Regions from separate parts of the Homo sapiens genome. Here region 2 is linked to region 1. The links come from fine-mapping of genetic effects on gene expression. Tissue or cell type: whole blood. Region 1 holds a variant in brackets; the other region holds the start of a gene. All regions are shown on one strand. Distances are from middle to middle.

The links.
Region 2: RAB5A starts here. The variant in region 1 is fine-mapped to the expression of RAB5A in whole blood (INTERVAL, PIP above 0.99).

What each region holds. Positions count from the first base shown.
Region 1 is chr3:19,978,498-19,991,545 of GRCh38, forward strand. It overlaps RAB5A (RAB5A, member RAS oncogene family), which reads left to right. Exons shown (of 6, transcript NM_004162.5): 6 at 5,211-6,678. The coding sequence ends at 5,326. It overlaps PP2D1 (protein phosphatase 2C like domain containing 1), which reads right to left. Exons shown (of 3, transcript NM_001252657.2): 3 at 6,849-7,685. The coding sequence ends at 6,883. Among named protein-coding and RNA genes, the nearest start is that of PP2D1, 27 kb to the right of the region's middle. The variant T/G (reference allele first, on the strand shown) is at 7,848.
Region 2 is chr3:19,937,826-19,950,873 of GRCh38, forward strand. RAB5A (RAB5A, member RAS oncogene family) reads left to right here and starts at 9,272. Exons shown (of 6, transcript NM_004162.5): 1 at 9,272-9,696; 2 at 12,981-13,048. It also overlaps a transcript of EFHB not described here and the pseudogene HSPA8P18. RefSeq lists enhancers at 8,153-8,754, 9,165-9,334, 9,260-9,429, 9,291-9,340, 9,861-9,910 and 1 more.

The sequences.
Region 1 (13,048 bases):
GGTGGGTTTGTGTGTATGTTTATGTGTGTGTGTGAGAGAGAGAGAGAGATTATACCACTTTTCTAAGTCCCTTCCACAAAACAATATTTTGTTGGTAATATTGTTAAATTTGAAAGATGATTACCTATTAGGTTGTAATACTGTCAGTTTAGGCAGCTTCTTCCAGGTGAGTTAAGCCTTAACCTCTTAACCTGATAGTTCAGACAGACAGATTTTGCAAAGGTTTCGCTGGGAAATTTGGATAAATATTTTTTTTATTAGATTATACTTTTTAAAAATCAAATTATTGGTAAATATAACTCAGAAGAACATGACACATAAGTATACAGATTGACAAATTATTTTAATGTAAACATTATAAGGAAGATGATTTCAAAGCATAGAGGCGTAAGGAGAAAAAAGGAAAACAAAACAACATCCATACTTTATATTACCTCAGATGGTCATTTGATCTTACACAATGTTCTTGCTGTTGCTTTAAGGTACTTTTTTTTTTTTTGAGACAGTCTCGCTCTGTCGCCCAGGCTGGAGTGCAATGGTACGATCTCAGCTCACTGCAACCTCCACTTCCCGGATTCAAGCGGTTCTCCTGCTTCTGCCTCCTGAATTGCTGGGATTACAGGTGCACACCACCACGCCCAGCTAATTTTTGTATTTATAGTAGAGACAGGGTTTCACCATGTTGGTCAGGCTGGTCTCGAACTCCTGATCTCGTGATCTGCCCACCTCGGCCTCCCAAAGTGCTGGGATTACAGGCGTGAGCCACTACACCCAGCCTAAGGTACTTTCTTTTTTTTTTTTTTTGAAATGGAGTCCTGCTCTGTCACCCAGGTTGGAGTGCAGTGGGACGATCTCGGCTCACTGCAAGCTCCGCCTCCTGGATTCACGCCATTCTCCTGCCTCAGCCTCTCCTGTAGCTGGGACTACAGGCACCCACCACCATGCCCGACTAATTTTTTTTGTATTTTTAGTAGAGACGGGGTTTCACCATGTTAGCCAGGATGGTCTCAATCTCCTGACCTTGTGATCCGCCCACGTCAGCCTCCCAAAGTGCTGGGATTACAGGCGCGAGCCACTGCCCCTGGCCCTAAGGTACTTTTAACTGATGGTAATTGCTGTTTCAGTTATAAGTAATGAAGTTGGAGTAGTAATAAGCCTCCTTTTTTCTATAACAAAAATAAAGGTTGGTTTTGTTTTTTGGTTTTGGATTTTTTTTTTAACCCTTTCCTCTTTCCAGTGGTTTTAATGTATAGATTCTACCTGAAGGGTCTGTTTTGGTGGTTCTCAAAGTTTGCCGTCTGTGGTTTTCATGTGCCCAGCACTCTTCTCATCCCATAACACCTTTTATTTTACAGCACTGATTCTTAACTGGGGTGTTCACAGTCCTAACCCCAAGTAAGAAATATTCTTAAATTGAACTCATAAATAGTTAATAGCTGAATCAGAGAATAATGAAAACCCAGTAAAAGTTGCAAGTATTTTTATTATTTTTCACTAGGTGACAGAGTTTAATGGTACTTCATTCGAAATGGGAAAGAACTTGCCTTTTCTCATGTAAACTGTTTTCCTGAAAAACTCAAGTTTGCAGTTTGCTAGGGAAGTGCTGGCACAGTTGCGAAGGATTGTGTGATAATATACTCATTTTACAAATGTGACAGATGACACCCAGAATCACATCTGAAAAGTTAGAGGAAACAATGAGTTAATAGGCCTCTCAAATCAGCCTGCACTGTAAACCTTTCTCACAATATTTAAACTCTACCAGATGGGCTTTAGTTTGTACCTTTTTATTCAAACATGCTAATAAAGTCATTTTTCGAGTTAGAAAGCAGCCTACATATTTTAGTTTTTTGTTTTTTTCTGAAATCAGAATGTTGCACTTCTTAAAAGAAAATCTATGTTGTAAATGGAATTGTGGCCTTTCCATTTCCTTCACTAGGTTAGTAAATTTTTTTTTCTTTTTTTTTTTGTTATGAAGGAACACTTTGATAGATTAGTAACTTAAATCACACAGTGCACTCATAACAACTCTAATCAATGCAAGGACTAAAAAGTTACTCGTTCTAGTTTACCTCCTTCATCCTCTTAATCTCACTCACCTCTGATTTAAACACTTAGGGAACATGCTAAAGGGATACATGATTGATTACTCAATCTGGAACCTAAGTTGTTATTATATACAATATATAGTGCTATTTTGTGTCCCAGGTACCAGTGTTCAACATTTCTGGGGCTTTGCTTGTAAATACATTTGACTGGAGATTTACCATTATAATGCTATTTATGCTACCAGCCCAGAGCCAGTCCCAGAGAAGTGGCCCAATTGAAGGCTTTCTTTCCAAACTTCAGTGCTCCTGGCTCCCAAATCCATTGCCCAACCCAGCATCTAGGATTCTAAAAATGATTGATGCTGATGTAGAATGGAATGTGTAGAACAAATAAAGGATAAAAGGTTCACAATGCAACTAGGCAATCCGATCTCAAAGCAGAGTGTATTCAATTTCTGAGTAACCTGAGTCAAAGCTATGGTAAAGTTAGAGTCTTACCATAGTGGTCTGTCCCCAAGATTGATAGAGATCAGTGTGTGCAGCCACTCTTAAAATCAGTACTCTTAGTCATCTTTAATATTCTGCCTCCCCTCAAAAAATGAATTTAGCACATCAAGGATCTTATGTATTAAAACAAACTACAGCAATCTCCAACTTTACAGTGGTTTGACTTACGATTTTATAACTCGATGGGGTGAAAGTGATATGCATTTAGTACATTCTTAACTTACTACGGGATTACATACAGAAACCCATCATAAATTAAAAATATCATAAATCAGGCTGGGCGCAGTGGCTCACTACCTGTAATCCCAGCACTTTGGGAGGCCAAGGCGGGCTATCACCTGAGGTCAGGAGTTGGTCAGGAAACAAGCCGGGCCAACATGTCGAAACCCCGTCTCTACTAAAAATAGAAAAATTAGCTGGGTGTGGTGGTATGTGCCTGTAGTCCCAGCTACTTGGGAGGCTGAGGCAGGGGAATTGCTTGAACCCAGGAGGCAGAGGTTGTAGCGAGCTGAGATCGTGCCACTGCACTCCAGCCTGGGTGACAGAGCGAGACTCCGCCTCAAAAAAAAAAAAATCATAAATCAAAAACATACAACTTAGGATGGATATATCAGGATGTAGCCCCATTGTAAGTCAAGGAGCATCTGTATATCCAGCAGGTAAGTTTTTTTAATCAGTGGGAAGCACACTCCAGAGAACAGCCACTAGCTGTATAGAGCTTGGCAGAGGTAAAGCCGTAACTGCTGGTTGAGAGTGTTGTCTGAATTTGACAAGCCACACTCATCGGACTCAAATAAAATTAAGAAATAGTTTTTGGAGATGAGGTCTTCAGGATAATTCTATCTGGATTAGGTACAGCTACTGGTCAGTCAGATTAGGATTCATCAGCCCATAAAAGGAGAAAATGAGGTTGGTTGAGGTGGCTCACTCCTATAATCCCAATACTTTGAGAGGCCACGGTGGGATGATCTTCAAGGCCAGGAGTTCTAGACCAGCCTGGGCAACAGAGCAAGACCCTATCTCTACCAAAAAAAAAAAGCCAGGCATGGTGGTGCACACCCTGTAGTCTCAGCTACTTGGAAAGCTGAGGTGGGAGGATCTTTTGAGCCCAGGAGTTCAAGGCTGCAGTGAGCTATGATTGATGCACCACACTCTAACTTGGGCTACAGAGGGAGACCTTGTCTCCAAAATGAAAAGAAGTATGGCTGCAGGCTACATTCAAACTAAGATCACAACGAAGTGTTGAGTATGTATAAATGTATGTGGATATGTTTGTGTCTAAGTGTATTTCCACTAGCATGCTAAGGTATGTTTGTGTGTGAGTATGTTTCCTCCAGTATGCTAAGTTTTGACACATGCAGGCATCTAACTTGGGTGTTATCTGTCCTTCCTTTGCCCAAAGCATAGATTATAATTGTTCATTCTCAAAAATGCAACTCTTATCTATTTCCCCTTTATTTGAAGGCAGCTGATGGTTACTCTGCAAGGTGTAAGTTTCTCTTTTAAAAACTAAGCGGTCGAGCATGGTGGCTCATGCTTGCAGTCCCAGCACGTGGGAGTCTGAGGCGGAAGAGTTGCTTGAGCCCAAGAGTTCAAGACCAGCCTAGGCAACAAAGTGAGACCCCATCTCACTTTGGAACTCAGGACTGCAGTAAGCCATGATCATACCACTGCACTTAATCCTGGGTGACAGAGTGAGACCTTGTCTCTTAAAAAAAAAAAAAAAGAGAGCATGTATATAGATGTTTTAAGGCCAAAGGCTGTGGAAGCCAGGAAGGAAATAGTAGATATGATCTATCACAATTCGGGGTGATAATTAGTTGCACAGTAGAGGACAAGTTTTGTTGGGGTGATGATTGCAAAGGTATTTGTATCCTGACTTGTTCTAAAAAATGTTTGTGGCAGTCTAGAGAACGCTGATATGAGCTGAGCTTCTTTATAAACTTACTGGCTGGCCATCATCTTTATTGACTTAGATTTTATTTAATAGAAGTAATAATGAGGCCAGGTGCCATGGCTCACGCCTATAATCCCAACACTTTGGGAGGCTGAAGCAGGTGGATCACCTGAGGTCAGGAGTTCAAGATCAGCCTGGGCAACATGGTGAAACCCCGTCTCTACTAAAAAACAAAAATTAGCTGGGTGTGGTGGGGCATGCCTGTAATTCCAGCTACTCGAGAGGCCAAGGCACGAGAATCACTTGAACCCAGGAGGTGGAGGTTGCAGTGAACTGAGATCACGCCATTGCACTCCAGCCTAGGTGAGCCTGGGTGACAGAGTGAGACTACATCTCAAAAAAAAAAAAAAAAAAGAAGTAATAATGAGTATAAAATAAAATAGAACTTTTCTGGTATTATTGAGTGAATCGGTATAGAGAATTACATAAAGCACTAGTTAGGCTTAAGTTTTAATTGTATCTACAACCAGTCCCCATCTACCGTTCCCCCAACACAATTACCCCAGAAATCAAACTCCCTAAGACAGCAACCAATATTTTGGCATTCAATACTCAGTAAACATTTGAAAAGAATGAACATATGGTTATATGATACTTTGGGGGTAACCTAACTGGAAAGAAAAATTATAGATAAGCAGGTGAAACTGATATTAATATGAGTATTCAAATATTCTATTTATTTGATCATTTTCTTTCAGCTAAAAAATTGCCAAAGAATGAACCACAAAATCCAGGAGCAAATTCTGCCAGAGGAAGAGGAGTAGACCTTACCGAACCCACACAACCAACCAGGAATCAGTGTTGTAGTAACTAAACCTCTAGTTTGAACTAGCTGGAATAGTCTTCTGCTTCCTAAATGTTAATAACAATGGAATTGGAGCATTTAACCAGCCCAGTATGACTTCCAAAAGAAGAGACTTATGATAGAGTCAAGTTTCTAATACAGAATTATTTTAAGTGTTTTGAACTTAATTTTTAATAACATGCATGGGTCCCTCTCACTAATGTTTCAACAATAGGGAAAAATGAGAACTATGTGGACACTTGTTTCATTGGAAGGTTAGGGGGAATAATTTCTCATCACTAGGAATATAGACAAATGACTGTCTGGGCCCACACAGTTAACCAGCCCATTTCTCCACACTGGTACAGTAGTCACCTGTGAAAAAAAAATTGGAACTTACTAATTTGGGCTTTTCAAAAACATTCTTTGTTTAGAAGGAGATTCTAAAGTTATTTATGATGCTTAGCCATAGTATTCAGGCAAATGTTCATTTCTCCTGGTACCTGTATTTAAAATGTACATTCCACATTTTAATAAATTAACCACAAGAAAATAATCCCACATATACAAGGTCAGGGGTGGGGAAGAGTATTAATGGTATCTTAATTATACCCAGTCTGGTTTTTTTTTTTTAAATGGGGTAAAAATCAAATGCAACCCCATCTTGTTTTAGGAATTTTGAGAACTAATAAATGCACCTTAATGGTCAGTGTTCCTTTCAAACATGTGAGTTCTTTAACAAAAATGAAATAAACCAGGTGTCTGTGATTTCTAATTAATCACCGCTGGCCATTACACAGGTTTTGTTGTTTGGGGTGGGGAGGGGGCTTTTGTTCCCTTTTGACATAATATAGTCAATGCACTAACAATTATGTATATTCAAACTTGATTATTTTAAATTCGATCTTCAGCTGTACTGTAAATAGGGTACTGCATTGTAGTCTCCATATCTGTATTACTTTTCTGTAATATTTAAGAGTTGCTTAAAAGCATACAAAATGTACTGTTACTAAAACAGCTAATTATTTCTCTCTCCCCCTTTGACAGGAAGGGGCTTCAGTTGTTCCTCCATGGCTAGAACCATAATAAACAATGTACCCGTAATTTGTAACATAAAGTATTGCAATATGTTAGTAACAATCTTGCAGCCTTCCTTTCCAAAGTTCATTTTATTTTGATCAGTTCAGTATATTGCACTAATTATTTTAGGTATTTTCATTATATGAAAGCTACCATGTGTCAGAGATGATTTAATCTATTTAAGTGTTGGACTGCTAGGAGAACTTGTACATTTATGATAATGCAGAATTAGGAAAACGGTTCACCAGTGTTTAGTTTTATATTGAGGTGCTCAGGTTGGAATAAAGTGGTATAAAAAGCAAGTATCGGCTTTTCTCTTTTCCTTTTTTTTGGCATAAAACAGTGAATATATATAAATGATACTATATGACCTAGTATCCGCTTTTATATTTTCTTTACTATGTTCATAAAATTATTTGCATGGTATTGATGAATCATCCTAATAGCTGGATCATTGAAGAATCACTTTATATTTTGGTGCTCTGGATAATTGGAACTTTATTTTTTTATGTCAGAAGCTGATATTCACTTCCATTGAGAAATATTACCATAACTGTAATGTTGTCTCTGGAGCCAGCCAGTAAAGCAGCATTTACAAGTTCATGGCTAACATACTCAGCTGCGCCTTCATAGAAACTCTTAGTGTCTGATTCTTTTTCATTTGTTGCCACATCATTTACACTAGTTGGTCTGTCAGTTACTTTTTCACTGCAAGGTTTACGATGAGTCGTTTCTGCTGGAAATGTTTCTACATTCTCAGGGTTATAAATACAGTATTTAGAATAGTTTGAATCGGATAAATTTTCTTTGGAATTTGTAGTTGACACACGTACTTCAGATACAGATTTATACTGAAACAATACGTGGATATTACTCTGTGATTTAGTAAGGTTTGGTTCACTGGTTGAAAAAAGCAGAGGCCCTTTGGATGGTGATTTGTTAGGTATGATAGGACAGTATGTTTCTTTATACATGTGAAATGTTGTCATTGCCAGGGCAGTAACTTCCTCTTTATCCAAAACTTCCCAAAGTCCATTAGTAGCTACAATAAGGAATTGACATAGGTCATCTATAGGGACAGAAATAGTTTGAGGTGCTGGGATAATGGATTTTTTCAGCTTGAGATTTCCATGAAATCCAAGTCCTCGTGTAGTTTTTACTTGCCCCTCTACAAGCCCGTATGGTTCATTTGAACTAATGACTGCTCCATTCTGAAGTATTCTTCTTCTTTCATTTGTGTTTCGTGTAGTATGTTCTTTGGTTAGGCAAAAACCTTTCCCATTTCTGCATAAGACTGCTTGCACATTACCTAAAAGATTATTTTTTAAAAGAAGAAATTTTTATCCTAGAGATAACCAATTGTATCAAAATCTACTGCTAACTTTAGTAAATTCTGTGTTTCAATGCTAAACAGAAAGCAGGCTATGTAAAAGTACGTTTAAATATGTGTAATATATCACTACTGAATGAT[T/G]TACAGTAAATACAGATTTCAAACAGGTCAATTTATCCCTCATTGTTAAGCAGCTTTTAGTGTTTAAAACTATTACATTTAGTATTAACATTACAGATAATGCAAAGTAACTTCTAAATTTTGAAATGAAATGACTTAATATTACTCACATTGCAGAGTCATGAGTTGAACTTTTTTATAGCCAACATATATTCCATCTAGGAGATTTTTAAATGTTTTTAAGATAAATGCTTTTTCAATTTAAAACACAAACTTTGATTTTTTAAAAAGAATGACAGTTGTGTAACCAGTACAAGTTAAAACTTGAATATACTTAGGTCATGGGTGATGAAAAAATTAGAATGTCACTATTAATGTTAGTCTTAACTAGGTTGCTATAATGTGTAGATTCTAAAATTTAAGTCAATCCGCCAGGTGTGGTGGCTCAAGCCTTTAATCCCAGCACTTTGGGAGGCCGAGGTGGGCGGATCACCTGAGGTCAGGCGTTCGAGACCAGCCTGACCAACATGGAGAAACCCCATCTCTACTAAAAATACAAAAAATTAGCCGGACGTGGTGGCCATGTTCCTGTAATCTCAGCTACTTGGGAGGCTGAGGCAGGAGAATTGCTTGAACCCGGGAGGTGGAGGTTGTGGTGAGCTGAGATGATGCCATTGCACTCCAGCCTGGGCAACAAGAGCAAAAATCTGCCTCAAAAAAAAAAAAAAAAATCATTCCTGTGGAGAAATATGTTGTTAATGTATTACATGAATAATAGGCAGCCAACATTAAACCCTTTGGTTGGAAACTGAAATCTTAAAAGTTGATTGTAGTTTGTCCGTGGTTCAAATGAATCTGTGATGGTGTGCTTCATTGAAATCTTACAGTTTAAACATGATCTGAACAGATTGCAGGGTGGTTATATATTACTGTAACTTTTTTTGGTGTATTTTTTAAGAACCACTGAATTTTTTTAGTTTGTTAGGAAAAATTGATTTTCCCCAAGTTTTTAGGAATATAATTACGTATTTTTTAAATTACATATAATTACATATTGTTTTTCTTGATATTAAATCATTTATGATTTATAGAAAGTTATTAAACTTCTGAGATGGGGTTAATGATATTTGAATATTATAACATCTTTGAGATTTAAAATTCCTGGAATAGGAAGCCAAATTTACATAGAATATTCTGGTTTTAAATATGATATTGTACCTGGGATCATTTAGTTGCTTGCAGGAGGAGTTCAATTCTAGGCCCACAGTTTTTTACGTATTTAGGCTTAGAAGGTTGAGGTCCAAGGCCAGGTATGGTGGCTTACACCTGTAATCGCCACTCTTTGGGAGGCTGAGGCAGGCAAATCACTTGAAGCCAGAAGTTTGAGACCAGCTGGGGCAATATGGCAAAGCCCCATCTCTACTAAAAACACAAAAAAATTAGTCGGGCGTTGTTGCGGGAAGTCAGGGACCCTGAACAGAGGGACTGGCTGAAGCCATGGCAGAAGAACATAAATTGTGAAGATTTAATGGACATTTATTAGTTCCCCAAGTTAATACTTCTATAATTTCTTACGCATGTCTTTACTGCAATCTCTGAACATAAATTGTGAAGATTTCATGGACATTTATCACTTCCCCAGTCAGTACTCATAATTTCTTATGTCTGTCTTTAATCTCTTAATCCTGTCATCTTCGTAAGCTGGGGTTGTATGTCGCTTCAGGACCCTGTGATGATTGCGTTAACTGCACAAATTGTTCATAAACCATGTGTGTTTAAACAATATGAAATCTGGACACCTTGAAAAAAGAGCAGGATAACAGCGATGTTCAGGGAACAAGGGAGATAACCATCAGGTATCACTGCCTGAGAGCTAGGCGGAACAGAGCCATATTTCTCTTCTTACAAAAGCAAATAGGAGAAATACCGCTCAATTCTTTTTCTCAGCAAGGAACAGCCCTGAGAAAGAGAATGCATTCCTAGGGGGAGGTCTCTGAAATGGCCTCTCTGGGAATGTCTCTTGTACGGTTGCACATAAGGGATGAAATAAGCCCCAGTCTCCTGTAGCACCCCCAGGCCTTTTAGGATGAGGAAATTCCCGCCTAGTAAATTTTAGACCTGTTGTCTGCTCTCAAACCCTGTCTCCTGATAAGATGTTATCAATGACAATGCATGCCCAAAACTTCATTAGCAATTTTAATTTCACCCAGGTCCTGTGATCTCGTTCTGCCCCCATTTGCCTTGTGATATTTTATTGCCTTGTGAAGCATGTGATCTCTGTGACCCACACCTTATTCGTACACTCCCTCCCGTTTGAAAATCACTAATAAAAACTTGCTGGTTTTGTGGCTTGAGGGGGCATCACGGAACCTGCTGACGTGTGATGTCTCCCCCGGACACCCAGCTTTAAAATTTCTGTCTTTACTGTACTCTTTCCCTTTATTTCTGAGACCGACGGACACTTAGGGAAATAGGAAAGAACCTACATGAAATATTGGGGGTGGTTCCCCCGATAGGGCATGGTGGCACATGCACACCTGTAATCCCAGTTACTTGGGAGGCTGAGGCACAAGAACTGCCTCTACACAGGAGGTGGAGGTTGCAGTAATACGAAGTCACGCCACTACACTCCAGCCTGGGTGACAAAGCAAGACTCTCTCAAAAAAAAACAAAAAAGGTTGAGGTCCATGCAACTAGTATAGTGGTATAATTGGAAAGCCTAAATTGGTGGCCAGTGTGGTGGCTCATGCCTGTAATTGCAGCACTCTGGGAGGCTGAGGCAGGAGGATCACTTGAGGCCAGGAGTTTGAGACCAGCCTGGCCAACATGGCGAAACTCTGTCTCTACTAAATACAAAAATTAGCCGGGCGTGATGGTGCACACCTGTAATCCCAGCTACTCAGGAGGCTGAGGCACAAGAATTGTTTGAACCCGGGAGGCAGAGGTTGCAGTGAGTCGAGATCGCATCACTGCACTTCAGTCTGCGCGACAGAGTGAGACTCAAAAAAAGCCTAAATTGGTAAAGCATTAGTGTCAGATATAGACAGAAACTGTTGTCTCATTTATATAATAGGAATTTTTAATAGCTGAGCTACTGGATTGGGACTAAAAGATGGTGTTTGTGAAAAACATTTTGGAAACTACATACATAGTTCTAAAGGCTATATGGCCCCTCATTTCTTTATAGTTTGGTTATTAATATTGTGTGTTAACTTGTCTTACTGTTGATTATTCGACTTAGATTTTGCAGAACATAAGTCAGTAAAATCTTGACTTTTGCTGGATTATAAATTATTACTGAATCAGCAAGACAACATGAAGTGGCACTTAATGTGACAACTGAGTAAATGGAATTGTTAGTACATATGGTTCAGTACCTCTTAAATGAGAAAAATTTTTACGTGTGTGCATACATACGAATTGTACGGCCATAGCTCTGAAAACGAAAGGGACATAGTTTGGCTCACAATAGTCAAATCTATTGACTTTGTAAATGTTCATTTGCATGTGGCAAGTCAAAGGCCATTTAGCAAAAAGAAAAAGCATTATTTTCCTAGTATGTGATTTGAAAAGAATTTAATAGAAATATGTACTTACAATGGAAGGATGGTAAACAGGTTATTTTTATTTTAGTTACCTCTGCAGAGAGCTTGACAAGTGTAGCGTTATGCACTATTTGCCTTTTTTTTTTCCTGTGCTACAGAGTAGGACATACCATGTTGGCCCATTTTATTACTTGTGAACATCCTTTGGATTCAGCACAATAAAATATTCTAGGAGAAAGGACATTAAATCCTGGTTGCAGTTCTTCCTCTACCTGTTAAAAAGGGAGATAATGCGAGACAGGGTTTCACTCTGTCACCCAGGCTGGAGTGCAGTGGCATGATCACGGCTTACTGCAGCCTTGACCTCCCTGGGCTCAGGTGATCCTCCCACCTCAGCCTCCCGAGAGCTGGGACTAAAGGCATGTTCCACCACACCTGGCTAATTTCTGCATTTTTTTGTAGAGACAGGCTTTCGCTATGTTGCCCGGGCTGGTCTCAAACTCCTGGGCTCAATCGATCCTCCCAAAATGCTTGGTTTCCCAAAATGCTGGGATTACAAGTGCCAGTCACTGCACCCAGCAGCACATTGTTTACCTGTATGAATGGTGCATGAAGGAAAGAAAAAGTGAAGGAGAAGTAGCCAGCGTTTCTTAACTATTTGTGTATCTAACCCAGGAAGCAGAGGGTGAGATTCATCAGGAAGACTACTAATGGAACGAACTAAAAAACTAGATGTGCAGAGTCAATAGTTTCATTTTGTAACAATGAGTGGCATATGCTGTCAGCTACAAACAGGGTGTTTGAAGTCAAGTGCTATATTAAACTGAAAGCTTGAACAGAATAATGAACAAAAGGTTTCCATGAAGATGGGAAATTAGAGGAAGATTTTTTTTTTTTTTTTTGCGGAGTCTTGCTCTGTTGCCCAGGCTGGAGTGCAGTGGCGCGATCTCGGCTCACTGCAAGTAGAGGAAGATTATTAAATATCACTGTTATGTCCACATAGTCTGGAGAAGTGGAGAGGAACCAGCCTTCAATAGTTTAAGAGAAAGGACAATTTGACTTTTGAAAAAGTTTATTGGTAACACCTGTTTGGAGGAAATGCGAACAGCTAACCAAGCAATGAACTGTGTTGAAGACCACTACACAATTTTAATCTAAGCATAAATGAATTCCTAGACAAAGGTAACAGCTTTCAGTATTTGGAGAGATTGCGCTCTTCAGAAAATGTTATCAGAACAAAAATGGAACAGGATTACTGGAAGAGCAACGTGTTTAGGAACAATAATCTTGGGGATTAAAAAGAGCCGCTTGGAGATGATGCTCAAGCCTTTTTAAAGTGGCATAGTCAGGTACAGTGTTTCTTATGCAGAGGGTAATGATGTGGCTGCCTCCTGCAATTACTGGGTTATCACCAACTTTTGTGAAAAGGAAAAGTCCAGTAAACTTACAGAGTGAACTCTGGAATCCCAACCAGGGACTTCTAGAGCTGAGTAGGCAATATCAACATTTTTCTCAGATAAAGCCAGAAAGGTGACTTAGTGTTGATTAAAACAAGAGAGTTTAAAGAAAGAATGAGAGAAGAGGAAAAGAAACTTTATGTGGTGGTCAGAAAAAGACATACCTATATACGTGATGGGTGAAGCAGGAAAAATAAAAACACACCTAGGATGCACAACG
Region 2 (13,048 bases), 41 kb before region 1:
TTATAGCCCTGACCCTGGTACAAGATAACATTCAACATTTGTTACACTAAATTGTGACTGTCAGTGCTTCTGTCTCCTCCTCCCCTGAAGACTGTTAGCTCCTGCGGCCTGACAGTCCCTTGACTCAACTCCTCTCTACTTCAATGTTTTATGCTTTGACCCAAAAAGACGGGGCTTAGTAGTGAGAGAGGTGGAAGACTGAAGGGCATCCATCCGAACTTGTTTACTAACATTTATGTGTTCTTCCCTAGTTACCTGCCTCCATGCCTTTGCTGGAGAGGGAGCCACCTAGGTTCCCTTCACCTGGAATGTCTATTTTCACACATTCCAAACTCAAGGCCAACTCTGAAAGGAGAAAGGGCTGTGATTGACTGGGAAAGGACATGTGGCAACTTTCTGAGATTACGGTAGTGTTCCGTATCTCAATAGGGATGTGGATTACACAGGTATATACATTTGTCAAAACATGAAATTATACTCTTAAGACGCTTGCATTTACTTCATTTTATGGATATTTGAACTTTAAAAAGGTTCACATATTGAACTCTAGTAAATGGCATGCATGATGAAATGTTTAAAGGAATGTGTACACATGCTCATAATTTTGAAATGCATAAAGTGTTGATACATGGCTGGACATATGTGATAAAGCCAAGTGTAGTAAAATGCTAATTGTAGAATCTGGGTGGTAGATATATGGGTGTTCACAGTACAATTACTTTGATTTTCTGAATGTTTGAAAATGTTCATCATAAAATGTTAGGAAAAAAATAAGAGATGTGGGTCAACATCTCTGGTATCTTCACAGTCACAGACTTGATTTAGACCTCATTACATCTTAACTGGAATCTTGCAATCACCTTTACACTGGCCTTCATGTTAGCCCACTGCAGTCTCTCCTCACCCCAAGGATCGCCAGAGAGAACCTTCAGAAGCAAAAATTGGACCTCCGTGATCCAGTCTCTGCCAACCTCTTCAGCTTTATCCCTGACGCTTGCCACCTTACTGCGGCCTGTACTACAGCTCAACCCAGGGCGTGTAGTTCCACTCGCACACTGGGCTATTTTATGACTTTCTGGTTTGCTTTTGTTTTGTTTTTGAGAAGGAGTCTCACTCTGTCACCCAGGCTGCAGTGCAGTGGCACAATCTTGGCTCACTGCAACCTCTGTCTCCAGGGCTCAAGCGATTCTCCTGCCTCAGCCTCCCTTGTAGCTGAAACTACAGGCACCCGCCACCATGCCCAGCTAATTTTTGTACTTTCAGTAGAGACAGGGTTTCACCATGTTGGTCAGGCTGGTCTCAAACTCCTGACCTCAGGTGATCCACCTGCCTTGGCCTCCCAAAGTGCTGGATTACATGCACGAGTCAACATGCCCAGCCTACTTTATGACTTTCTGCTTTTGCCCCTGTTGTCCCCCTTGCTTGGAATGCTTTATTCCAACTCATCCTCTGCCCTCCTTGCCTGGTAAATGCTCTTCAAGACTCAACCCAGGGATTACTTCTTCCCAGTAGCACGTCTTGCCACTCAAACTGGGTTGGGTCTCCTTTTTTTTTTTTTTTTTTTTTTTTTTTTTTGGGATGGAGTCTCACTCTGTCGCGCCCAGGCTGGAGTGCAGTGGCGCGATCTTGGCTCACTGCAAGCTCCGCCTCCCGGGTTCACGCCATTCTCCCGCCTCAGCCTCTAGAGTAGCTGGGACTACAGGCGCCCGCCACCACACCCGGCTAATTTTTTGTATTTTTAGTAGCGATGGGGTTTCACCGTGTTAGCCAGGATGGTCTCTATCTCCTGACCTCGTGATCCGCCCGCCTCGACCTCCCAGAGTGCTGGGATTACAGGCGTGAACCACCGCACCCGCCCATGGGTCTCCCTCTTTCATGCTCCCATAGCACCTCAAACTTATTTGTAACAGTATTTATCCTACTATGATCTATGTGGGTTTCCATGTCTGTGTACTAAACTAGATGCTCCTTGAAGAGCAAGCCTTCTAATAGAATGCACAGGGTCTGATCTAAAAAAGGCTTTGATAAACCACTGTAAAACCGAACAATTGATATTGAACTGGCATGGATGACACTCTGGCACCCTCCAACAACTTAGTGTTATAGATTTGATTGTATCTCCTCTACAGGAGTTTAAGGCCCACTGCCCCTATTGACTCAGCCATCTTCCGACATCTCTCAAACACCACCTTCCTCATGAAGACTACTCAATTTCCTGCCCCAGTTTGGAATGATCTGTCCAATTCCTTTAAAGGCTTACTTTCTATGTACTTCTTTTTTTATGAGATTACAGGCCTTTTTAGGCAAATTTTGACTGGGAAAAATTAAACTACATTGACTGATCAAAAAAGAAAAAAAACTGCCACAGAATTTGCTACATATTTGGGTCCTTCAGTGTTTTAAGTGTGTGGAACAATGCTACATCTGTACTTGGGCTGGCTTATTCAGTGTTGGGCCCTGAGAAAGCACCATCAGAGGGAGGAGATCCACCAACAGTGAATCCCCTAGGCATTCCTCCTGCACTCTGCTAGAGCTTTGTAATGATGGGATTGCAGACTCTCTCCAGCTCTTTCTGCTGATGTTCAAATTCTTCCTTCTCAACAGCCTGATTCTTATCTATCCAGTTAATAATTTCATTACGCCTGACAAGAATCTTCTGTTTGTCTTCATCGTGAATCTTGCCTTGAAGTTTCTCATCTTCAACAGTTGCTTCCATGTTGAATTCATAGGATTCAAGGGAATTCTTTGATGACACCTGTCTCTGCTTCTCATCTTCAGCTTTGTACTATTCAGCCTCCTGGACCACACATTTAATGTCTTTCTTGCTAAAATGGCCCTTGTCATTAGTGACAGTAATCTTGTTCTTTTTCCTGTACTCTTGTGCACAGCAGAGACACTGAAGATGCCATTGGCATCAATATCAAATGTGACTTCAATGTGAGGAACACCTTGGAGTGCCAAAGGTATGCCTGTGAGTTGAAACTTGCCAAGCAGGTTGCTATCCTTGGTCATGACATGCTCACCTTCATAAACCTGAATAAGCACATCAGGCTGCCTGTCAGAGTAGGTAGTGAAGGTCTGTCTGCTTGGAAGGAATGGTAGTATTATGCTTAATGAGAACAGTCATGACTACACCATCGGTTTCAATACCATGGGAAGGAAGAATGACATACAAGAGCAACAAATCTTGAGCATTTTCAGATTTGTTGCCAGACAGAATGGCTGCTTGGACAGCTGCACCATAAGCAACAGCTTCATTAGGGCTGATGCTCTTATTCAGTTCTTTTCCATTGAAAAAGTCTTGGAGAAGCTTCTGAATCCTGGGGATAAAAGTAGAACCACCATCCAGGAAAATATCATGAATCTGTGACTTGTCTAGTTTGGTGTCTTGAAGGGCTTTCTCTATAGGGTCCAGGTGTCACAGAACAGGTCAGCATTCAGTTCTTCAAATAGGGCATGTGTAAGAGGTATAGACATTGATTCATTCATAGAGAAAATGGATCTCAATACTAGCCTGGCTGCTCAAGAAAGAGTGTACTTAGCATGTTCACAAGCAGTATGGGGATGTCAGACAGCTCTCTTATTCTCACTGATGTCCTTTGTATGCTTGTACTTGAACTCAGCAATAAAATGGTGGACCACTTGGTTGTCAGTGTTTTCCACCTAAGTGGGTGTCTCCTGCTGTAGATTTCACCTCAAAGATTCCATCCTCAACAGTGAGGACTGACACATTAAAAGTGCCACTTCCAGGTCAAGCGCAATGGCTCACGCCTGTAATCCTAGCACTTTGGGAGGCTGAGGCAGGCGGATCACCTGAGGTCAAGAGTTCAAGACCAGCCTGGCCAACATGGAAAAACCCCGTCTCTACTAAAAATACGAAAATTAGCTGGGCATGGTGGTGCATGCCTGTAATCCCAGCTACTCGGGAGGCTGAGGCACAAGAATCGCTTGAACCCGGGAGGCAGAGGTTGCAGTGAGCCAAGATTGCGCCACTGCACTCCAGCATGAGCAACAAGAGTGAGACTCCATCAAAAAAAAAAAAAAAAGGCCAGGAACAGTGGCTCACACCTGTAATCCCAGCACTTTGGGAGGCTGAGGGGGGGCAGATCACCTGAAGTCAGGTGTTTGAGACCAGCCTGGCCAACATGGTGAAACCACGTCTCTACTAAAAATACAAAAAAAATTACCCAGGCGTGGTGGTGGGCACCTGTAATCCTAACTACTCAGGAGGCTGAGGCAGGAGAATCACTTGAACCTGGGAGGCAGAGATTGCAGTGAGCCGAGATCGCACCACTCCAGCCTGGGTGACAGAGCGAGAATCCATCTCAAGAAAATAAATAAATAAAAATTTAAAAGTACCACTTCTAAGGTCAAAGATCAGCACATTTCATTGAGCTCCAACCTTTTGCCTAAGGCATAAGCAATAGAAGCAGCAGTTAGCTCATTGATAATTCTCAGTACATTGAGATAAGCAATAGTTCCAGCATCTTTGGTAGCTTTGATGCTGAGAATCATTAAACCAAGCTGATATTGTGACCACAGCATTGGTAACACTCTTTCCAAGGTAGGCTTCTGCCATTTCCTTCATCTTTGTCAGAATAACAGAGCAGCTGTCCCCAACCTTTTTGGCACCAGGGACCAGTTTCATGGAAGACAATTTTTCCACAGACCAAGTTGCAGGGGGTAGGATCGGGGGAAGATAGTTTTAGGACAATTCAAGCACATTACATTTATTGTGCACTTTATATTATTATTACATTGTAATATATAATGAAATAATTATATAACTCACCATAATGTACAATCAGTAGGAGCCCTGAACTTGTTTTCCTGCCACTAGACGGTCCCATCTGGAGGTGATGGAAGAGAGTGACAGATCATCAGGCATTAGATTGTCATAAGAAGTGCTAGATCCCTTGTGTGTGCAATTCACAATAGAGTTCACACTCCTATGAGAATCTAATGCTGCCACTGATCTGACAGGAGGGGGAGCTCAGGTGGTAATGTGAATGATGGGGAGCAGCTGTAAATACAGATGAAGCTTCACTGACTTGCTGCCACTCACCTCCTGCTGGGCAGCCAGTTCCTAACAGGCCACAGTCCAGTACCAGTCCATGGCCCTAGAGGACACCTTTCTGGACAGAAGTTTTTTTTATCTCTCCCTTGTATTCTACTTGGACCTTGGGCCTGCCAACATTATTCACTACCATGAAGGGCCAATGCTTCATATCAGACTGGACAACAGCATAATCAAGTCTGTGTCCAATCAGCAATCAGATTTGGCATCAAAAACTGTGTTCATGGGGTTCATTGCAACTTGATTCTTTGTGGCATCACTGAGCAATTGTTCAGTATCAGTAAAGGTGACATAGCTTGGAGTGATTCAATTTCCCTGATCATTGGCAATTACCTCTATTTTTACATGCTGGAAAACACCCACACAAGAGTAGATGGTGCCAAGATGAATACCAACTGCAGGTCCTTTAAACAGGGTTGTTTGCATGTAGGCCGGATTGGATTCTGAAGAAAGACATAGGAACCCCAAAAGTGGCCACAGCATTCAATAAATCCCCATAAATTCTTCAAATGACTTTGCAGTATGTAAATCCAGGTAAGGGCTCATTCAATTCATTCATTCATTCTACAAACAGGTATTGAGTCCCTCCCTATTTTGTGTCAGTGTTGGGAATACAGTTAGCCCTCTGTATTCCATCGAAAGTATTTGAGTTAAAAAATGAAAAAAACACAAAATAATACAAATTAAAAAAATACAACTATTTACATATCATTTACATTGTATTACTTATTGTAAGTAATCTGAAGATGATTTAAAGCATACAGAATAGCCTACATGCAAATACTACACCATTTTACATGAGACTAGAGCATCTGCAAATTTTGGTACCCATATGGTGGGGGAATAAGGGAGTGTCCAAGAACCAATCACAAGCAGATGGACTGACTGTATAACCCAACCCCTATCTCATGGAGCTTATATTCTAGTAGGGATAGATAACCATTAAGTGGAACGATGCGTAATATCATATCAAATGGTGCTAAGTGTTATGAAGACAATGCATAATATCATATCAAACAGTGCTGTTATGAAGACAACAGACTACTTCGATATGTAACAAAGCATTTAGAATTAGTGGGCTTAGAAGTCCCTTAGGTAGATGACATTTGAGCTGAAGCCTGAATGATGCCCTCCAAAGACACAAGCTTTTGAAACATGACTAGCTTAAGTTTTCACAGCCTTTTATTCACTGACTTGCTACTACGCCAATGTTAGAGTTACCGTTGGTTTGTCTCCAGGAAAAATTTTGAATTGTCTCCAGACAGTTCCAGTTAAAAGTAAATGTAACCATTCATTATCATCTATGCAAAGATTCATTCTTTAGCTACACAAGGGAGGACAGATTTCCTGGAAGAGAAGGAAAAGGTTATGGGATCCTGTGAATGGTAGAGAGACACCTGCCACTGGGAATTTGTTATTGAGTATTTAGAGATTTGAGGGCAGTATAAGCATCAAAGACAGTGTTTAAGTCTTCATGATTATTTATCCATTTTGTACCTTCCTTAACAAGTTCTATCAACTGGTAGGACTCCACATTTGACACTAAAATATATACAATTATCAGTCCTCCTCAGTTATCTGGGGCTATGAAAAAGAAAACATAGGCATATTGCAAGTGGCAATAAAACAACAGAGCTTTACTGTGTCATTTCAATTTCTCTAAAACTACTACCGGATCTTTAGAAATGCCAGCCACCAGGGCAGCACTCTTCCAGGCAAACATTATGACTAAACTGTAAAATATTGTGAAAAGTATTCATGAAGGAGGTGAAGACAAAATCACTAAACAGGAACGAGTGAAGAAGCAACATACTGGAACGATGAAATAGGGAGTTTTTTGCAATTTATAAATTTCAGCATCAAATGTTTTTCATTGTGAGGTCTTCTTAATGTTCGTGATTCTAAATGTAATTAAGTTCACCAATACTTTGGGGGTCCCTATTATAGCAGTCAAGGGTCTTCTGTGAAGAACTGAAATGATGAATAACTGATGGTCACAGCCCTTAAAAACCTTATAATTCAATGAAAGGCTAAGGAGAAAAGTCCAGGTGCTCATTAGCTATTAAAATAAGGCAGATTTTAAGACAGCCATTATACAGAGTAAGGCAAAGTATTGTGAAATTACAGAAAAAATAATAATTGAATCCAGTAGAAGTATCTGCAGATGCGGTCCAAAGGAACTGGTGTCCTGGCTAAGACGGAGCCAGCAGTTATGGGCAATGATAGTGTTCCATGTGGAGAAAATAAAGTGATCAGATACCAAGATGGCAACACACAGGCAATATTCAGGGAACACAGACCAGATACGTGTGATCAGGGAACAAATAAAGAGTATGGGGAGAGGAATTCTATAGAAATAGAATGAAAGAAACTTGGGTTGGGACTAGAGTTAAAGAACTTTAGACTGTCAAGTAATGACATAGCATTGAACATTTTTTAGTAGAGTGGCTAAAATGTAAAGAATGGACAGAAAGAACAGCAGTATGCATTAATTTCAGTTTATATAAACACTACCATGGACCAGGTGTTGGGATTAGACTTCAAATTTGGGGATTAGATAATTTGTTGATAGAATGGACAATGGTTTGTGAGGAGAAGAAAGAGGTGAAGCTGATTCTGCAGTTCCAAGTCTGGGTGACTGGGAGGATGTTAATGCCAGTCTCTAAGCAGAAGCAGGTTTGGAGTGGAATAGGTTTCGTTTTGGGCATACTGTTGACATGACAAAACTGATGTCACATATCCTATTTCCTGACTCCTCCTGGGATTGTCCCAGAGCTATTACCATGATTAATAGTTCATATTGAACAACTCCTTGAGAATAAAATGCCACAGGTATCATTTACGTATGACACATTACGTTCTTCTGGCAACTAGGTAGTTGATCTGAAAGACGGGCTGTTCAAAGTTCAAATCATCTTAATTGCACAATGCCGCCGACTGTACGCCCATAAGATACCTTAACCCGGTACACTTCAAAGACAATATTCTCGCCCTTACAACAGAGCTATACATTGTAAACTGCAAACTGAAAAGTAGCCTTTATTCTGAAGGAAAATCAATTTAATATTCTTCCACTAAATTATCAAAACAATTTTTTTGGCGGAGGCTGGGGAGGGGGTGGTGGCTGAAGCCTCGCCAGAGACTGAATGTGGTGTGGGATTCAACTAAAGCAGCACATCTTCAGTAGGTCCCCCGTGGAGGGTAACGAACATCTTGGGTTGTCTTTCACCAGAATTGTGTTCAACAACTCACGTTCTGGAGCCAACCCGCCGCAGATCAGAATCCAGCTTCTGCACCACACAGCCGTGATCTCGGACAAGTTACTCAATCTCTTGTGTCTCAAATTCTTTACCTATAAAACATCTACAACTAGAACTGAAGACTTGGCTGCCAGGCACTGGGCTAGACATAGATTTACAGCGGTGAGGACCACCAAGGGGAGCTAAAATTCGAATGTAGGGAACAGACGATTAACAAGTTAGTTTCAGAATGAAAGACTCGAGTGTAAGAATTCAATGGGATAATTCCTGTAAAGCGTTTAGTACAGTAAAGAGCGAAGGGAAATTCTGAATAAAAGGCAGACACTATTTTAGGATTTGGCCTTCCCCGCCCCCTACCAAAACCACGTAAACTCTTAACAGAAGCGACTTCTTATTGTCAGGCGCCTAAAGGCGGCTTTTGGGATAGGGAGGGTCCTTTCTTCCTCCTTGGGGTAAATGCGATTTAGCAGCCTTTACCGACCTACCCAACCCCAGGGCCATTTTGTGGGAGGAGGTTCTCTCGTGCTAGACAAGTTCCCTCTAATAAAGCCCCTTAGCCGAGATGCCAGGATTGGGGTTAGGGAACCTCGCCGCTCCCACAAGGGCTGGGCACAAAAAACAAACAAAAAAACACAAGTTATTTTGATCTTCCCCCAAAGAATAGTAAAGGAATTTCCCCCGACCCCGGCCGCCAGGAGCCCAGAGACCCCCCAGCCTAAATAACAATGGCGCTGGAGAGGGCGTGGCCGCGCGTACCTGGGGTGGGGGAAGGGGAGAAAGGCGGCCAGTTCGGATCTGAGCCACTCGCAGGGTCACGTGACATCCTGCCTCGCCCCGCCCCGCGAACAAACCTAGGCGGGGAGGGATTCGGGAAGGGGCGAGGAAGCGGAAGGAGCAGGCGGACTGGCGATGATGGGAAGTGACGAAGTGGCGCAGTTCGCTGCGTGCAGCGACGTGGCGGCGGGGCCGGCACCGGGCAGCGGAAGTGGCTCCGGCGGTGGGACTTGAGTGTTTGTGTTTTGGTTCGTGAAGGAGCCGGCGGCTGGCCTTAGGGGAGGAGGCAGAGGGAGGAGGAGGAGGAAGAATTAGTCGGAACTCCAGCGCCGGCGGCGGCGGCGGCGGCGGAGGAGGAGAAAGGAAAGAGGAAGGGGGAGCGGCGAGAGGCGGAGACGGAGCCCGACAGGGGCGGCACCACGGCACGAGCCCCGCACAGTCCAGTGTGAGGGGAGCGGCGCTAAGAGCAGGCGACGCCGCCGCCGCCACCACCACCGCCATAGATACACTCTCATCCTACGGGCCACGCCTGGGCCTTGCTGCCAGGAAGCTTCGGCCCCGCAGCTCGGCTTGCTGCGGTCTCAGGTAACCGAACCGCCCCTCCTCCTGCGCAGCGGGGGCCTGGACCCCAGGTTATCCGCGGTCCCCAGCCTGTCCGCGGCCCTGCCGGTACTGAGACCCCCCACCCCTTCTCCCTCACGCGCAGCAGTGCCCTGGACCAGAGAACTATCGAACCCGGCGTCTTGTTCTGCCAGCCCTGGTGACTCATCCTCCAGGGGCTCTGGAGACCGGGATTTGGGGACTGACTGAGGGAGCGACGGGTGTCACCCTTTCCCTTCTCAAGATGGCGCCGTGGAAAGTGTACTGGAGGCCGCGGTTCCGCCTGGTCTCCGTCCTGGCAGTCCTGGGGGTCTCGGTCAAAGCAAGGCAGGTTCGGGGGAGGAGGTTGGAAAGGCCAAGGGACCTGGCGAGTGCTGCTTATCCAGGCGATCTGTAGTTGGCTATTAGCTACTCAGGTGCTCTCCAAGCAGGAACCTGGGCCTACTGCAGGTGTCAATGTGGGGAGCTCCGCCTATCTTCAACTTCCAAAGATGAGTAGTGTCGGTGGGTGGGAGGCTCGTCAAAATAGGCTGTCTAGAGACTTGTTTTCTGTTTGGAAGGTAGTGAACTACAGCGTTAAATAAATTCAAGATAACAGGACCGCTGAACTCCTTCACTGGGTAGAGACCATGGAACTTGCTCTGGCGTTATCTTCCCTGGAAGCTGCTTACCTCTGAGACTTTCAAACTTGTTAAGTTCTGAACGTCATAGTTCACATACTTGGTTTTTGTCTTGCTTAAATGGAATCAAAGCGTTCAATCAGTTGCCTTTCACATAATAAGAAAAAAACACTTGTACACCTCTGGGAATACTCAAGACTGCTCATAAACTTTATTCCTAAAGTAAAATGGAAGTGATAACTCAGCATTTGTATAAACAAAGTAAATGGAACAGTGCCTGGCACAAAATAAGTGCCCAGTCAATTTTTTGATCAAAGAACCCTTAGAAGGATTTTAACTATAGAATGAATAACAGTTATTTTCAAAAGATTACAAATGTATATTATGCAAAATTCTTGTTTTGCAAAACAGAAGTTTCAGTAAGCAGTGAATACAAATGAATGCACGTAATTTTTAACCTTAGTGTTATGCTAAGTGTATATTTACCATTAACTTTAGTTATTTCCTGTTTGAGATCCTTAGGGGGAGTAGCCACAATTAAGTAGCTTTAAACCTTAAAAGTCAAAGTGAAATCAGAATCTTGTTTGATTTTTTTTTTTAATGGGAGTCTGATATTTTCCCTAAAATTTTGGAAGTGCCGTAGAAATTTGGAGCATATTGTCCTTGATAAGTAATTTCTTGTTTTCTTAAATAAAAAGACAAATGGAAAATGTTTTGATTGTGTGTAATATCTGAAGATGTATTGGTGCATTTTCAGTATATATGATGTTCTATTGATATTTTATCATTTTCTTATCAAAGGAGCACATTATTGGCAATTTCAATCCCTACTATGTATATTAGAGATTGTTTACATGTATTGTTTTATTTAATTGTCACATCAGCTATGCAAGTTAGATATTATGGGAATAGAAACTTGGAAATTAAAGAGTTTGCCCAGACGGAAATTGGTATAGCCAGGATTACACCCCTAAATCTGGTATGTTTGTGGAGGAGGGGGCATTTTTATTTATACCTTGTTATTTGGAAGCAACTCAGATATTACGTCAATAAATCTGTAAATATTTCAGTATGTAATGGTAAAAGATAAGGACTCTAAAAAGCTGGTGTTTAGTTAAGGCAAGGAGGTAGTTTCATTGCCTTAAGAACTAAGATCTCGTGGACATGTTAGGGAATTCATTATGAAGAGCGTATTATAAGCTCATTTTATGGGAAAGGCATATTTCTTTCTTTTGTTTTTAATATAGAGACAGGGTCTCACTGTGTTGCCCAGGCTGGTCTCAGAGTCCTCCTGCCTCACCCCCAAAGTGTTGGGATTTACCGGTATAAGCCACTCTGTCCAGTGTGAAAGACGTATTTCTTATATGAGGTAGCTAAATGAAATATAGCAGGGTTTTTAGAGAGGGAATCATCAGGTTTAATATATTAGCATGTATTCGGATTTTGATTAAAGATAGAAGGAAACTGTTAAGATTGGTTTGTGAGTGGATTGAAAAAGGTTCTTCAAATATTCACTAATTCCTTAGAGATTAAAAATTAGCATAGAAGTCGCCATTCAGGCTAGATTTCTTTAATGTGTTGTTTAAATAAAAAATAATGGCCTGCAGGCTGGGCGTGGTGGCTCACACCTGTAATCCCAGCACTTTGCGAGGCTGAGGCAGGAGGATTGCTTGAGCCCGAGAGTTCAGGATCATCCTGGGCAACATAGCAGTTAAGTGTCTCTACCAAAAAATTAGCCTGGCATGGTTCTGAGCGCCTGTAGTCTCAGCTACTCAGGAGGTTGAGGCAGGAGGATTGCTTGAGCCCAGGAGGTCTAGGTTGCAGTGAGCTGTGACCACGCCACTGCACTCCAGCCTGGGTGAGAGAGCAAAACCCTTTCTCCAAAAAAATTTTTTTAAAAATGGCATGTATATTGTTCGTCTAAAGACTACAAAAAAGTTACAATTATTGTAAGTAAATAAGTCAGTAATAATCACCACATGGAGAACAACTGTTAGCATTTCTGTGTATGGTGTGCTTGAGCAGATGAGGAAACAGTTTTAAGTCTGCCGTTAGGCACACAAACCTGGGAGACTGAAAATATTTGTTGTCCAAAATTACCATTAATTAAATGAAAAATGCATCGTTTAACAGAAAACTTCAAATAATACTAAATTTTAGGATCTGTTCTAAAAGTTTCCCATTTATTAATAACATAATTTTTCTCAAAACAATGTTAATCCAAGTAGCCTGGCTACAGAACTTGAACTCGAGTCATCTCTCAGGTTGCCTGGGTTTGAAACTCGGCTCTGTCACTTCTGTGACAATAACTGTGTGACCTCAATTAAGCTTCTTAACATCTCTGTGCTTGTTTCCTCATTTATAAGGATTGTAATAATATCTCATTTTATAGGATTGTTGAGAAGTTAAGTACTTAAAGCACTGCCTGGCACAAACTTGAAGCTTTGAGGTTAGCCTTTAAAAAAAAAAGTAATTTTGGACTCACATCCTATACCTTTGAATTTCCTTTAAAAGATAGTGACATAATCTAAAGGGCATTGAAGGTCTAGTAGAGTTTAAGATAATCATGCTATAGGCAATATTTAAAGTGATTAATAGTAAATTTGCTTTACTGATTTGTATATTTAATTCATAATTGTTTCTTTACAGGTTTCTTTACCTCCAGAAAGAAGAATATTGGCCCCTTGAATTCTGGAAGTTCATTGAAGAGTCTGAAA